4 linked regions of the Homo sapiens genome follow. The protein of the gene in region 2 purifies or fractionates together with the protein of the main gene of each other region. This does not show direct contact. Each region holds a gene or a part of one and is shown on either strand. Other genes may lie near its edges.

Region 1 (3,500 bases), on a different chromosome or scaffold from region 2:
AAAGTGCTGGGATTACAGGTGTGAACCACCGTGCCCAGCCCATCTTTTTTGAGAGACAGAGTCTCACACTGCCACCCAGGCTGGAGTGCAGTGGCATGATCTTGGCTCACTGCAACCTCTGCCAAAACCAACTTCTACCCAGTTTCTGAGTATTATAAGTTCAGGCTGATGGCTATATATAATCCATGTTTTGAATTTTTACAATCGTCCTATTTCCCTAATGATTTTATTTTATTTTTTATTTTTATAATAAGACTGAGTCTTGCTATATTGCCCAGGCTGGTCTCAAACTCCTAGGTTCAAGCCATCTTCCTGCCTCAACATCCCAAAGCACTGGGCTTACAGGTGTGAGCCATCACATCTAGCCCCAAATGATCTGTAATTTTTTTTCTTTGTTTTTTTGAGACCGAGTCTCACTCTGTCACCCAGGCTGGAGTACAGTGGCATGATCTCGGCTCACTGCAACCTCTGCCCCCCCGGGCTCAAACGATTCTCCTGCCTCAGCTTCCTGAGTAGCTGGGATTACAGGCACCCACCACCACGCCTGGCTAATTTTTGTATTTTTAGTAGAGACAGGGGTTTCACCATGTTGGCCAGGCTAGTCTTGAACTCCTGACCTCAGGTGATCCACCCGCCTTGGCCTCCTAAAATGCTGGGATTACAGGTGTGAGCCACCACACCCGGCCAGTTTTTTGTATTTTGAATAGAGACAGGGTTTCACCATGTTGACCAGGCTGGCTTGGAACTCCTGACCTCAGGTGATCTGCCCACCTTGGCCCCTCAAAGTGCTGGGATTACAGGCATGAGCTACTGCTCAGGGCCTTAAAGATTTTTTTTTCCATTAAAATGAGCTGTGTAGCTGGGCATGGTGGTGTGTGCCTGTAGTCCCAGCACTTTGGGAGGCTGAGGCAGGAGGACTGCTTGAAGCTAGGAGTTCAAGACCAGCTTAGGCAACAAAGCGAGACTCCATCCTAAAGAAAAAAAGCTATTGGCTGGGCATGGTGGCTCGCGCCTGCAATCCTAGCACTTTAGGAGGCTGAAGCAGGAGGATCACTTGAGGCCAGGAGTTTGAGACCAGCCCAGGCAACATAGTGAGACCTTGTCTCTACAAAAAAAAAAAAAAAAAAAATTAGCCAGGTGTGATGGGGCACACCTGTAGTCCCAGCTACATGGGAGGCTGAGGTGGGAGGATTGCCTGAGCCCAAGAGTTCAAGGCTACAGTGAGCTACGATCATATCATGGTATTCCAGCATGGACAACCAAGTGAGACCCTGCCTTTGAAAAACAAAACAAAACAAAGCTGGGGCAATATCCTTTGAGGACATGAACACGGAATGGGACTGCTGCGAGTCCCAACTCTCCTGCATGACCTTACGGTACACCCAGCAAGAAAGGGCCAGCACCACAATAGTCAGGCCCAAGCTTGCAATGGCACCACCTTCCACTCAGGGCCCCCAGAACCTGAAGCTCCAGCCAAGTATTCTGTGAGTCCCTGAGGTAGCTGAATCATTTCAGGGCAATGATGACCCCTAGACCTGGAGAGCTGTGCAGGTCACCAGCCTTCAAGGTACAACTGGCTTTAAGCTGGATCTTTTGGGAAGCTTACCCCCTAGAGTCACAGTCTATCATGTTGTCAAAGTAGGTTTTCACAGACTACTTCTGCAGAGAGACTCCCAACCTCCTAGACCACGAGGCAATGCTGTTATTCTCTCCAGCCCCAGCCATCCCTCTCTATAGCGCCACCAACTGTACTTCTAAACAACCCACAGGCCTAGTGTCTCCCATTTTCAAAATCTCTTTCCAAGGCATACTGTTCCACTGAGGGGGCTGAGCCCCGAGGGAAGAAAAAAGGCCTACCAATGGCTGATTCCTACTCTCCTCAGCATCAGGCTCTGGATTCTACAGAAAAGGTTTCTAGGCCAGGCAGCAAATTTCCTAAATGCACCAGGTCTCTTAAAGGTTGGCCTGATAGCTGTAGATTGGATTCTTTCTCATAGAGAAAGATGCTTGGAACACAGGCAGGACTCAACCCACATAGAAACCACCTGCAAAAGAGGAGCTTCCACAACTCTGAGTCCTAGAAACATAATTCCTGACACAAATTCCATGATAGTAAGCTAGTAGAAATCCACTTACTTTCTTTTGGAGCAGGAATTTTGGAGTTGACGGATCTCCGTTTTTGTTTCTGAAAAACAAATCAAATTGTCACAATATATGGCTCTTATCAATTCTCAAGGGCCCATCCTGGGCCCATGTACTATGCTAAAATGCCAGACAATCAATCAGCAAAGAGTCAATAAGCAAAGTGAATTCTCTGGCGCACTGGCTGCAGCCAGATGACAGGCACCTACCTGGATTGTTACATTTTCCTGCAAGGGCAGATTGTCCTTCGGATGTAAGGGAAGAAGCTGTAAGAGTTCTGGGTTTATTGCAGCCACATCATCAAAATCAATCTGCAAGGAGCAAGTAAAAGTTTCAATGAAACAACATTGTTCAATCCAAATACATTTTTTCTTTTTTTTTTTTTTTGAGACAGAGTATCGCTCTGTCGCCCAGGCTGGAGGGCAGTGGTGCGATCTTGGTTCAATGCAACCTCTGCCTCCTGGGTCCAAGCAATTCTCCTGCCTCAGCCTCCTGAGTAGCTGGGACTACAGGCATGCGCCACCACGCCCAGCTAATTTTTGTATTTCCAGTAGAGACAGGGTTTCACCATGTTGGCCAGGATGGTCTCAAACTCCTGGCCTCAGGTGATCTCCCCACCTCGGCCTCCTAAAGTGCTGGGATTACAGGTGTGAGCCACTGTGCCTGGCCCCCCCGAGGCTGAGGCGGGAGAATTGCTGGAATCCAGGAGGCGGAGGTTGCATTGAGCTGAGATTGAGCCACTGCCCTCCAGCCTGGGCAACAGAGCAAGACTCTGTCTCAAAAAACAAAAAACAAACAAACAAACAAAAAAACAACATAGAAAAAATTAAATTTCTATAGACAGGGGTACCCCTAAATTCAAACTTTACCAACTTTAAGTTCCACTAAGTATGAATAGCTATAAAACAAATAGTTACTCCTTAATAATGGTTTACCATCTAGATGGATATGGGTTTCTGATTTCCAAGCCAATGGTAGACGTCAGTGATGAGAATGAGGTGAAGAGGAGGGCAGACAGGCAGGCAAACAGTCGGGTACTCCACAGCAGATCTAGGCCACTTGGCTCCCCTGCTGATCTGCTGGGCAGTGAGGTCCTGCTGGGCACAGCCCCCCAAGCACCTCTTGATGGCTGACACGGAGGAGGAAACAAGTTCTAACTGTCTGGTGAGAGTCAAATGGGGGCCCTTTAGGATCTTATGGGCAGGGGCAAGTTCCTGACAGCTGCTACCTAACCCTAAGACTACCTACATTTTCTTCTGGGCCCAGAAACTTCCCCAGTTACGGCTTCCTGCCCATGCCTTACCTATTTCCTGTTGATGCCTGCAATGAGGTCACAATTCTAAGTTTACATCATCAGA
Region 2 (3,500 bases):
TACTGGTGGCATTATATCTGTCCTCTGGAAACATGGTGAAGACTATATTTCCTGACACCAAAGAAGGGAAAACAGGGCTCAAGAAGGTAGCTCACCATTTAACAGCTTGTGGTGAAACCCACCAGAATGGTGCAACACTGCATGGAGTTGATGTGTTGGAAAGTCAGGCTCTCCCACAGTACCTACCAGAGGACAGCGGGGCCGCTCACAGGAATGCTGGAATCCCCATCCAGCAACCCAGAGGGCATGCATGGCTATAGACTTAAAGATGCACCACCTTTTTTTTTTGAGGCGGAGTCTCTTTCTGTTGCCCAGGCTGGAGTGCAGTGGCACGATCTCGGCTCACTGCAAGCTCTGCCTCCCGAGTTCATGCCATTCTCCTGCCTCAGCCTCCCGAGTACTGGGACTACAGGCACCTGCCACCACGCCCGGCTAATTTTTTTTGTATTTTTAGTAGAGACGGGGTTTCACCATGTTAGCCAGGATGGTCTCGATCTCCTGACCTCGTGATCCGCCCGCCTTAGCCTCCCAAAGTGCTGGGATTACAGGCGTGAGCCACCGTGCCCAGCCAAGGTGCACCACCTTTAAATGCAAATTTTTGCATTTTTAGTAGAGATAGAGTTTCACTGTGCTGGCCAGGCTGGTCTCAAACTCCTAGCCACAGGTGATCTGCCTGCCTCAGCCTCCCAAAGTGCTGGGATTACAGGCATGACCCACTGCACCTGGCTGGGAAAATTGTTATAACATGGATTAAGCAGGAATACTATGATTACACACACACACACACACACACACAACGCGCACACACACACACACACACACACACACACCACCCCCTCACCTCTCCCAAGGGGAAAATGCATTGAAAAGGACTAGAAGTAAATATGTTATTCCAGGTTCTCTGGGCAAGGAGTTGATAGGTAAGGATTTGAGATGGAATAAAGGGGATATTTCATGGGAGCCTTGGTGCTGGTGTTTGGACCTGGTGAAATGACAGAAGAGCTGTCTGGAGCATGCATGGACAGGGTCTGCACAGAAAGACCTGTGGGGTGTGGAAATGGTGGTTTGGTCTGGCTGGAGGTGGGGTTAGAAGTGAAGGCTGGTGGCCGGGCGTGGTGGCTCACACCTGTAATTCCAGCACTTTGGGATCCTGAGGCAGGCGGATCACCTGAGGTCAGGAGTTCGAGACCAGCCTGACCAATATGGAGAAACCCTGTCTCTACTAAAAATACAAAATTAGCTGGGCGTGGTGGCGCATGCCTGTAATCCTAGCTACTCCAGAGGCTGAGGCAGAAGAATCACTTGAACCCGGGAGATGGAGGCTGGGGTGAGCCAAGATCGTGCCAGCCTGGGCAACAAGAGTGAAACTCTGTCTTAAAAAAAAAAAAAAAAAAAGTGAAGGCCAGGCGTGGTGGCTCACGCCTGTAATCCCAACACTCTGGGCTCTGGAAATCTGAGGTGGGTGGATCTCCTGAGGTCAGGAGTTCGAGACCAGCCTGGCCAACATGGTGAAACCTTGTCTCTACTAAAAATACAAAAAATTAGCCAGATGTGGTGGTACACGCCTGTAATCCCAGCTACTCGGGAGGCTGAGGCAGGAGAATTGCTTGACCCCAGGAGGCGGAGGTTATAGCGAGCTGAGATCGTACCACTGTACTCCAGCCTGGGCAACAGAGCGAGACTCCATCTTTAAAAAAAAAAAAGGAAGTGAAGAGCAGGGCCAGGGTGGGTCGAGGGCTCTTTTAAGTACTTAGGGAGATGACCTTGTCTTTGACCAGACTGAGATAGCAGCTTACAGAGGGAGCGAGAAACCCTGAACATGGAGAAGATTTAAAAGGTAGCATGGGGTTGGCTCTGACAGTATACCTTCTCTCTGAATGAGTCTTTTGTGTCCTTCTCTTCAGGTTCAGATTCAGAACAAGAAAGTGGACATCTCTAAGGTCTCCTCCAAGTGTGGGTCTAAGGCTAACATCAAGCACAAGCCTGGTGAGTGGTGCCTCCCTTGCCCACTGGGTCTCCAGGGTATGTCGTCCTGCCATGGGTCAGCTGGGCAGCCAGCTGGCTGGCAAGGGTTTCATCTCTGTGCCTTTAGCATCCCATGAAGACTACCCAGGACACCACAGTCCTCATTCTGTCAGGGAGCAGGAGTTCGGGTGCTAACCTCTAAGTGGAGGAGGAGCAGTTTCTTACAGCAGCCATCTGCACAGGCATTCTCTTGAGTACCTACTGTGTGTGTGGAACTATTGAGCTAGGCCTGGGGAAGTGGTGCACTCTGAGCTGAGAACCTGGATTGGCTCTAAACGAGGATTACAGAAGCTACTGCTGAAGGAGCTGTATAGAGGGCAGTGTTCAGGTCCCACCTATCAGATGCAGGAGCAAAGGGTGCTCCCAACCAGTGAAGCATCAGCCGCTAGCCCTGGCAGGAGAATGGGAGGCGTTCAGCAACTTGCACTAATGCAGTTTCCTTCCAGCAACATGGTTGGCCCAGCGCCCCTGTGGAAGTCGCTGTGCGGAGGCTGGGCTCTTGCCTTGGGTAGTCCCCTAGCAGCCTCGTGTCCTAGTTCCTGGGTCTACAGCAGATTTGTGAGTAGGACTGCTGTAGCAGCAGGCACACTGGCTGGCAGACCTGGTATCCCAGAAGGCTAGCCACCACAGGCCAGATAAGGTGAAGGCAAAACTCTCTTCCCTCAGGGCGGGCGCGGTGTCTCATGCCTGTAATCCCAGCACTTTGGGAGGCCAAAGCGGGCGGATCACTTGAGGTCAGGAGTTTGAGAACAGCCTGGCCAACATGGTGAAACCCTGTCTCTACTAAAAATACAAAAACTAGCTAGGTGTGGTGGTGCATGCCTTTGGAGAATTGCTTGAACCCAGGAGGCAGAGACTACAGTGAGGCGAGAGTATGGCACTGCACTCCAGCCTGAGCAACAGAGCGAAATTCTGTCTCCAAAAAGAAAAAAAAAAAACTCCCTTTCCCTCTCAGCGAAGAGCATGATCCAGTTTAGAATGTGTTCTATTTAGAAAGATCAAAACAGTTCTGTCCTTAACTAACCATTTTTTTCCCCTTTTATCTGGGAAATCTCCTATCAGATACTTCCTTCTCTAATGACACTGAGTCACTTAGGGTCTAGTTTTTGCCAGGGCTGGGTTTCCCAATATGGGACACCGGGAGACCTCGGCCAGAAGCTGTGCGTGGAGGTCTGCCATGTGAGCTGAGAGGAGATGGAAGAACAGGAGAAGGGGCCCAAGGGAAACCACGCTGCTGGGCGCGGGAGGGGCTGGGTACTCATTGAGGGCAGCTCGTCCCGCACCCTTCCCCTTGGTCTCATGGGCACACTCTGGCCAGTGAGCTCTGAACCCTGGGCGTGAGTTCAGACCACTTTCCCTCCCCGTCCTAGCCTGAGGTCACTAGATCCCAGGCCTGCCTTGGTCCATGTCTTTCCTTCCTCAGCGCACAGCCTCGGGGCCACTCTGTCCTTTTTATTATTCCTTCTTTTTGCTAG
Region 3 (3,500 bases), on a different chromosome or scaffold from region 2:
AAATGAAAAATTAATTTAATAGGTTAAATTCCATTTTTTCCCATTTTCTTTCAACGGATGAAAGATGATGACTGTAAGGTAAAGGTCAACTATGCAATAATATGGCCTATATATTACCACAAATCAGAGCAAATCGACTAAAGCATATTAATATGATACTTGTATTTTGCTCACTAAGAGTCCAAACCTTAGGTTTTTATCAGCAAAGAAATGTCCAACATATAGACTAACCCTTGTGCTTTTAGATAATTTTCTTATACATATGCTTTACAAAAGCTAACTTTTCCCTTCAAACCAGTGAGAGAAGAAAGTATCACTCTCATTTTACAGGAGTAAAAAACAGGTCAGAAATATTAAAGTTCGCTTTTTAGCTTTATTTTTTATTTATTTATTTTTTTGAGATGGGTCTTACTATGTTACCCATACTGGTTTGAATTTCTGGGCTTAAGCTATCCTCCTGCCTCAGCCTCCCGAGTACCTGGGACCATAGGAGCATGCCACTGTGCCCAGCTTAAGTTAGCTTTTTTTTGAGACGGACCCTTGCTCTGTCGCCCAGGATGGAGTACAGTGGTGCAGTCTCGGCTCACTGCAACCTCCGCCTCCCAGGTTCAAACAATTCTCCTGCCTCAGCCTCCTGAGTAGCTGAGCAGGCACGCGCCATCATACCCGGCTTTTTGTATCTTTTATTTTTGTATTTTTAATAGAGACAGGATTTCACCATCTTGGCCAGGCTGGTCTTGAACTCCTGACCTCGTGATCCACCCACCTCACCCTCCCAGACTGCTAGGATAACAAGCATGAGCCACTGCTCCCAGCCCAGCTTAAATTAGCTTTCTAAGGTTTTTAAATAAGTATCAAAGATCCTCTGGACTGTCTAACTGAACTCAAGACATACCACGCTCAAAATTTCTACCACAGATAGCATGTCCTACAAAAGGTCCGGGCACATCTGGTCTGACATGTGACTAGGTATATGGCCAGGTATTGGTATGAATCTTGAGCCTGAGGACGACCCCCGACCCAATTCAGCAAGAAGTGCTCTACTGATGTCAAGTAGAACAAAGTCAACAAAAATGAAGTTTGGGATTTAAATTTTAATTTTTTAACTTTTTTTTTTTTTTTTTTTGAGATAGAGTTTCACTCTTGTTGCCCAGGCTGGAGTGCAATGGAGCAATCTTGGCTCACTGCAACCTCTGCCTCCCGGGTTCAAGCGATTCTCCTGCCTCAGCCTCTTGAGTAGCTGGGATTACAGGCATGTGCCACCACACCCAGCTAATTTTGTATTTTTAGTAGAGATGGGGTTTTCCATGTTGGTCAGGCTGGTCTCAAACTCCCGACCTCAGGTGATCCATCCGTCTTGGCCTCCCAAAGTTCTGGGATTACAGGCGTGAGCCACCGTGCCCAGCCAATTTTTTTTTTCTATAAAAAACAAAAAGCCTCTCATTAAGACTAAGTGATTTTTCTCACCTTGTTTCAGAAGGATTTTGTTTAACCAGAAATTTCTTATTTGGCATTCCCATTTCAGCAGCTCTAACACAATATAAAAATAAGGACATAATGTATTTAGAGAAGGGAAGAAAACATGCTTACAAATGTAATACAGGATGACAGAAACAAATCATCATTTAGAAGCTGGTGTACTACTGGAAGACCTGTACTAAGCATATTAAAGACTGCATTCAAGAAAGAAGAATTTTTTAAAAAAGTTATTAAGATATTTTTCCCATTAAGTCTTTATTCCCAAGAAACCTTTAGGACATCAGAAAAGGAATATATTTAGGCACTGAATATAAAGATTAACTGTTTTTAAGATTAACCAGCTATCAGTTATATGAGTTGAATGTTGTCAAATTTAGTAAATAAATTCATCTAAGATGAAATGAGATTTTAGCACCTGATTTTAATAAATTTCTTTATATAAAGGGGATTTCTATCAGCTCAACTGCAGAAAAATTAACTCTTTATTTCTAAATTTAAATATGCAAATAGACCAACAGATGACTAAAATTAATTGGTTTGATAACTAACATGACATGATACAAAAAACTTACTTCATGTATTTCTTCCTATCAAGAGACTTCTGTGTTGCAGCTGAAAGAGCCACTCGTGGACTTTTCATTTTATCCTTTAATATACAAAAGTAACGTCAAACTCTACTGGAACCAATTAATACCACTATATTATAATGTATTATAATCCCACATTGCCTGGAAAAGCTTCTCTCTACTAACATTTTTAATTTAGTTAAATCATCTTGTTTTGTATTTTTGAAGCAGTCTAATTCTAAGAATTAAATAATTAGAATTATGTAAATTTTGCTTGCTTTTCCTTTGCCAATCACACTAAGATAACTGATTCAAATCACATACTCTGATATACTTCAAATTAACTTGGAGCCTGTTTTCTAACTCAGATTTCAAAAAAAGCAAAACCCACATTATAATTGAATTCAAGGAAATTCAATCAGGAGCAGCTGATAGATTGTATAAGCCATCTGAGCAAAACATTCAAAGCTTCAACTCTAAAATCCAATAAGAAAACAATATGTAATTCTTAAATGATGTAATTCTTTTAAATCTGTCTACAGATTTAAATGCTGCTAGTAATTCCAGGAATTACTTGTGCTTAAGAATTATCAGAAGAAGGGTGCTGAAGTCAACCAAAACTGACATTTAGTATCAATTACCCTAAACCCAGAAGAACTCTATTCATTAGAAATCATATAACATACCATTTGCCTGAGCATTTTCTCTTTGCGAACTTCTCGATCATGATGTAGAATAGACATTCTTTCAGCTGCATCCATTACAAAGAATATGTCATGAATACCGTACAAGGCAGCTCGCAACTAGGCACAAGAGAAGAAAATATTGTATACATTTAAAAGATGAGGTTAGAGTTCAGGAATACTATATACCATGTACACTTATTTATAGAAAAAGATTAAAATAGTTTTCATTGAAACCTATTTTCAGTGATTAAATAAAAAAGGAGAAATATAATATGTCCATGTCTTAAAAGCCTTCAGGATCCATGTATTTACCTGAGCTAACACTCTTTCCTGAAGTGAAGCATCTTGAGCTGAAACAATGCCTCTCTTTAATGGTGCTTCTGACTGAAAACTTCTTATGAATTCCATAGTATCCTGAAAAAAGAAATGCTCCTTCAAAAACATTTTTCTAGAAAGATTTGTGATCACTGGAGTTTGCTTTTTTCTTTTTCTCAGTCAATCCAAAATTACAGTCTTTCGTCAGTATCTGTGGGGGACTGGTTCCATGAATCCCTCAGATACCAAAATCCAAGGATGCTGGAGTCCCTTATATAAAATAGTTATCTGCATATAACCTAAGCACATCTCCCATATACTTTAAATCATCTCTAGATTAGTTAAAATACCTAATAAATGTACATGCTATGTAAATAGTTGTTATATTGTTTAGGAAATAATGACAAGGAAAAAAAATTTGTACATGTTCAGTACAGACACAACCATCATTTGT
Region 4 (4,145 bases), on a different chromosome or scaffold from region 2:
GTGATCCCTTCCCCTACCCAGCTGGATCCCCTCCTTGCTGGATGAGGACAGAGCCACCCAGTGACAGAGGCAGAGGTGAGTGCAGGGTGAAGCAGCACACACTGCTCCACTCAGAAAGGCCTCTGGGCGGGTGGATCACTTGAAGTCAGGAGTTCAAGACCTGCCTGGCCAACATGGTGAAACCCTGTCTCTACCAAAAATATAAAAAATCAGCCGTATGTGGTGGTGCACGCCTGTAATCCCAGCTACTTGGGAAGCTGAGGCAGGAGAATCGCTTGAACCCAGGAGGCGGAGGTTGCAGTGAGCTGAGATCACGCCACTGCACTGTAGCCTGGGTGACAGAGCGAGACTCTGTCTTAAAAAAAAAAAAGAAAAAGAAAGGCCTCTGGAGTCAAGAGCATCGCCCTTCCCTGTGCAGTGCACAGTCCCCTTCTCTGAAAAAATAAAAGTTAAAAAAAAAAAACCCTTTCCTCTCTAAGATCTGGAACAGAGAAGAAAATGTGGAAGCATTCTCCTGAACTCACCTTAAAGTATCTCCATCTACAAGGATATGTTTGAACCTCTCCTGATATCGGAAAGCTCGGACCTCTCGAATCTCCCGGATCCGCCGGCGCCAATTCAGAAACCGGTAGTGCAGGTTGAGGTCATCCATCTTGTTCATGAGAACAAACCTGCCAAGGGGAGAAGGGGATTGAGGAGAAAGCAGGGCCCTAGGTAAAGCACCTCAGCCTCTGTGACCCAGAAGGTAGAGAAGGCACTGGCCTTGAGGCCAGCTGCCCAGATTGACCTCAACAACCCTCATCTTCTTTCTTCCATTCAACAAACATTTACCAAGCACCTACTCTGTGTGCTTTTCTCCGTGCTAGGGATGGAGCTGTGAACAAGATGGACAGGATTCCCATTCTCACAGGCTGGGAGGTGGACACGACAGGCAATAAACAGACATAATTTCAGGCAGTGGAGAAAAGAACAGGGTGATATGATAAAGAATCTGGAGGCAGTGGATAGAGTGGACAGAGGCGGTCTCTCTGAGGAGGTGACATTTGAGTTGAAAAGGAGCTAGGCATGACAAGCCAGGCATATTCCAGGCAGGAAGGGCAGCCACAGGTCCTTGGATGGAAGAGAGCTGGCATGGTAGAGAAACAGAAAAAGGCATGGACAGCTGGTATATAGGGAATGTGAGGGAGAATGTACAAGATGAGAATAAGGCAGGAGTCAGATCATGGCCCTACAGACAATGAAATGGTAAGGACTCTGGATTTTATTCCAAGATGGAAATTTCTGGAGGGTTGTAAGCAAGGAAATGCCATGATTGGCTGGGTATGATGGCTCATGCCTGCAATCCCAGCACCTTGGGAGGCTGAGGCAGGAGGATCGCTTGAGGCCAGGACCCAGACCAGCCTGGGCAACGTAGTGAGACCTCATCTCTACTAAAAATTAAAACAATGAGCCAGGTGTGGCAGCATGCACCTGTAGTCCCAGCTACTAAGGAGACTGAAGATGGCTTGAGTCTGGCAGGTCAAGGCTGCAGTCAGTTCTGATTGTGCCACTACATTCCAGCCTGGCTGACAGAGCAAGACCCTGTCTCAAAAAAAAAAGAAAAAAAAATGCCATGATCCTGGGCCTGGTGGCTCACGTCTGTGATCCCAGCACTTTGGGAGGCCGAAGTGGGAGGATCACAAGGTCAGAAGTTGAAGACCAGCCTGACCAACATGGTGAAACCCCATCTCTACTAAAAATACAAACAAATTAGCCAGGCGTGGTGGTGCGCACCTGTAATCCCAGCTACTCAGGAGGCTGAGGCAAGAGAATTGCTTGAACCTGGGAGGTGGAGTTTGCAGTGAGCCGAGATCGTCCCACTGCACTCCAGCCTGGGTGACAGAAACTCCATCTCAAAAAAAAAAAAAAAAGCCACGATCTTAATCAGTTCCTAAAGATCATTCCAGCTGCTGGTTGGAGAACTGATCACAAGAGGATCAAGAACAGATGTGGGCAAACAATTCAGACGTTGTTGCAGCAGTTCACATGAGAAATGACATCCACTAAGTCGGTAGCAGCGCCGATGGATGGGGGTGGGATGATCCAGGTATTTAAACAACCATCAGTCCCTACATATAAATGAATGAATGATTTTTCCTGGGAGCCAAAAGTGAGAAAGAGGTGAAGTACTCTTCTCTTCCCATTCCCTAAACACTGGGACAGGGGTTTTCTTGAGGCCTGACATTGCCTTGCACACGGTAGGTGCTTAGTAAGCCTTGGCTGGGCTGAATTTGATCCCAATACGCAAATTACGACTCTTATGCAGTAGCTACAACCCACCACGTGGCCCAGAAGAGTAGGCACCTGTGGGACAGACAGCCCTAAGATTCCACTCCCGGGCACTCAGCCAGGACTCAACCCCAGGTAGATGCTGGTTGCGCAGACCCCACAGTCTTGGCACCGGCGAGTGGCGGCCCTACTGGGCCCTGTCTCCTCCCCGGGCACGGCCTGATCACTGAGATGAGACCCGGGAGCAGCCGGGCCCCAGCCCATCCGTGTGCCTACGCCCAGTCTCCCCAGGCCCTGCACTGGGCCGAGGGTGCAGCAACAGAAGAAGCCCAGTGACCAGAGCGCAGGGCCCCGCCCCTGGCCCCAGAGCCCCCGCCCAGGACCCCCGCCTTCCGCTTCAGGCTCCGGGGAGATACGAGGCCTCCGGGACCCCGCCCCCGATCCCCGCCTACCGGGGCCGCCGCGTCCTCCTCATCCATAGGCCTCTCAGCTCCGCACACAAGCTCTTCGGCCGCCGCCACCACACACATCCGGGTCCCCGCCTTTCCTTCACTCCTAGAGGCCCGCCCCGTCCCCCATCTAAGCCAATCAGCAACGGCCTCTGACGACGGGCACCTGCAGGAGCCAATCGGAAGGCGCAGGCAGGGTGTGGGGCGCGGCCCGGTGCCCTGGGTACCCAGCTCAGGGCCCCGGTCTGGTCAACCCGGCTGTTGCTGGGGTGAGCGAAGGCGACGTGGCAGCGCGGACGCTGCTGGGTGCCTGGGCGCCGCTGAGGCGGACAGGGGGCGGCTCTTGAGCGGCGCCGGGGAGACGGGACGGGCGGAGAAGGTGGCCACGCTCGCACAAACGTTGCGAGTATTACTTGAGCCCTCCTTCCGCGCTGGACTGAAATAAAAGCTTTACCGGAATGTCCATTTAATCCACGGTGCAGCCTTATGAAATAAATCTTATCTCCTTTTTACGGATGGGCCGAAGGCTGGCCTCGATAGCCTGCGCGCTTAACTGTTATGCTGTGTACCCTCCCGAGCTCTGTTTCATGGCACCGCTCGCTCATTATTGGCAAGAACATTCCATTCCAGGAGGAGAGAACTGGGGATGCAGAAGGCACAGTGGCACGAAGCGGCATTCTGTGGAGGAACACAGGGCTTTGGTAGGCTGAAGGAAAGTTAGACTGGGGTTAGAATGTGAAGGGACGAAGACACGAATATTTATTGAACACCTACTAGGGAGTGCCTACCTGCCATTCTGGGGGGTTGGACTCCTAGATGAGGACTTCCTTGCTCCCTTCCCATCACCATATCTCTCTCTTCTGGACGGAAAAGATTCCTCTCCTCTGTAGCACCTCATTTATAATACTTTTTTTTTTGAGACGGAGTCTCACTCTGTCGCCCAGGCTGGAGTGCAGTGGCGCGATCTCGGCTCACTGCAAGCTCTGCCTCCTGGGTTCACGCCATTCTCCTGCCTCAGCCTCCCAAGTAGCTGGGACTACAGGCGCCCGCCACCACGCCAAGCTAATTTTTTTTGTATTTTTGGTAGAGACGGGGTTTCACCGTGTTAGCCAGGATGGTCTCGATCTCCTGACCTCTTGATCCGCCCACCTCGGCCTCCCAAAGTGTTGGGATTACAGGCGTGAGCCACCGCCCCCCGCCATTTATAACACTTATTACCGTCTTGCTTTCGTTATTGGAGTTACTTGTGTGTGTAGACCCGTCTCTGCTAGACTGTGAGCTCCTTCAGACCCCAGACTATTCTATTCTTATCACACTAGGTACTCTAACGTGTTGAGTGCCAGGAAAGCCATCAGCTCGCATACCGTGAATAGTGCCCACTCGGCATAACGGCAATGGGTGATAGGAATAGATGAGATGGGAAACAGA

The links.
Region 1: the proteins of MAP4 (region 2) and KIF2C purify together in Homo sapiens (affinity purification with mass spectrometry; one large-scale study listed by BioGRID and IntAct). This does not show direct contact.
Region 3: the proteins of MAP4 (region 2) and CCP110 purify together in Homo sapiens (affinity purification with mass spectrometry; one large-scale study listed by BioGRID and IntAct). This does not show direct contact.
Region 4: the proteins of MAP4 (region 2) and SPRYD3 purify together in Homo sapiens (affinity purification with mass spectrometry; one large-scale study listed by BioGRID and IntAct). This does not show direct contact.

Annotation. Positions count from the first base shown.
Region 1 is NC_000001.11:44,746,337-44,749,836, reverse strand, and holds part of KIF2C (kinesin-like protein KIF2C), read right to left. Parts: intron 3,444-3,500; exon of another isoform or gene 3,081-3,443; coding exon of another isoform or gene 3,078-3,080; intron 2,454-3,077; coding exon 2,352-2,453; intron 2,186-2,351; coding exon 2,137-2,185; intron 1-2,136. UniProt on the Homo sapiens protein: In complex with KIF18B, constitutes the major microtubule plus-end depolymerizing activity in mitotic cells. Regulates the turnover of microtubules at the kinetochore and functions in chromosome segregation during mitosis.
Region 2 is NC_000003.12:47,855,917-47,859,416, reverse strand, and holds part of MAP4 (microtubule-associated protein 4), read left to right. Parts: intron 1-1,904; coding exon 1,905-1,986; intron 1,987-3,500. UniProt on the Homo sapiens protein: Non-neuronal microtubule-associated protein. Promotes microtubule assembly.
Region 3 is NC_000016.10:19,544,442-19,547,941, reverse strand, and holds part of CCP110 (centriolar coiled-coil protein of 110 kDa), read right to left. Parts: intron 3,146-3,500; coding exon 3,044-3,145; intron 2,849-3,043; coding exon 2,732-2,848; intron 2,126-2,731; coding exon 2,052-2,125; intron 1,531-2,051; coding exon 1,468-1,530; intron 1-1,467.
Region 4 is NC_000012.12:53,076,591-53,080,735, forward strand, and holds the start of SPRYD3 (SPRY domain-containing protein 3), read right to left. Parts: upstream 2,801-4,145; 5' UTR 2,744-2,800; coding exon 2,721-2,743; intron 672-2,720; coding exon 525-671; intron 1-524.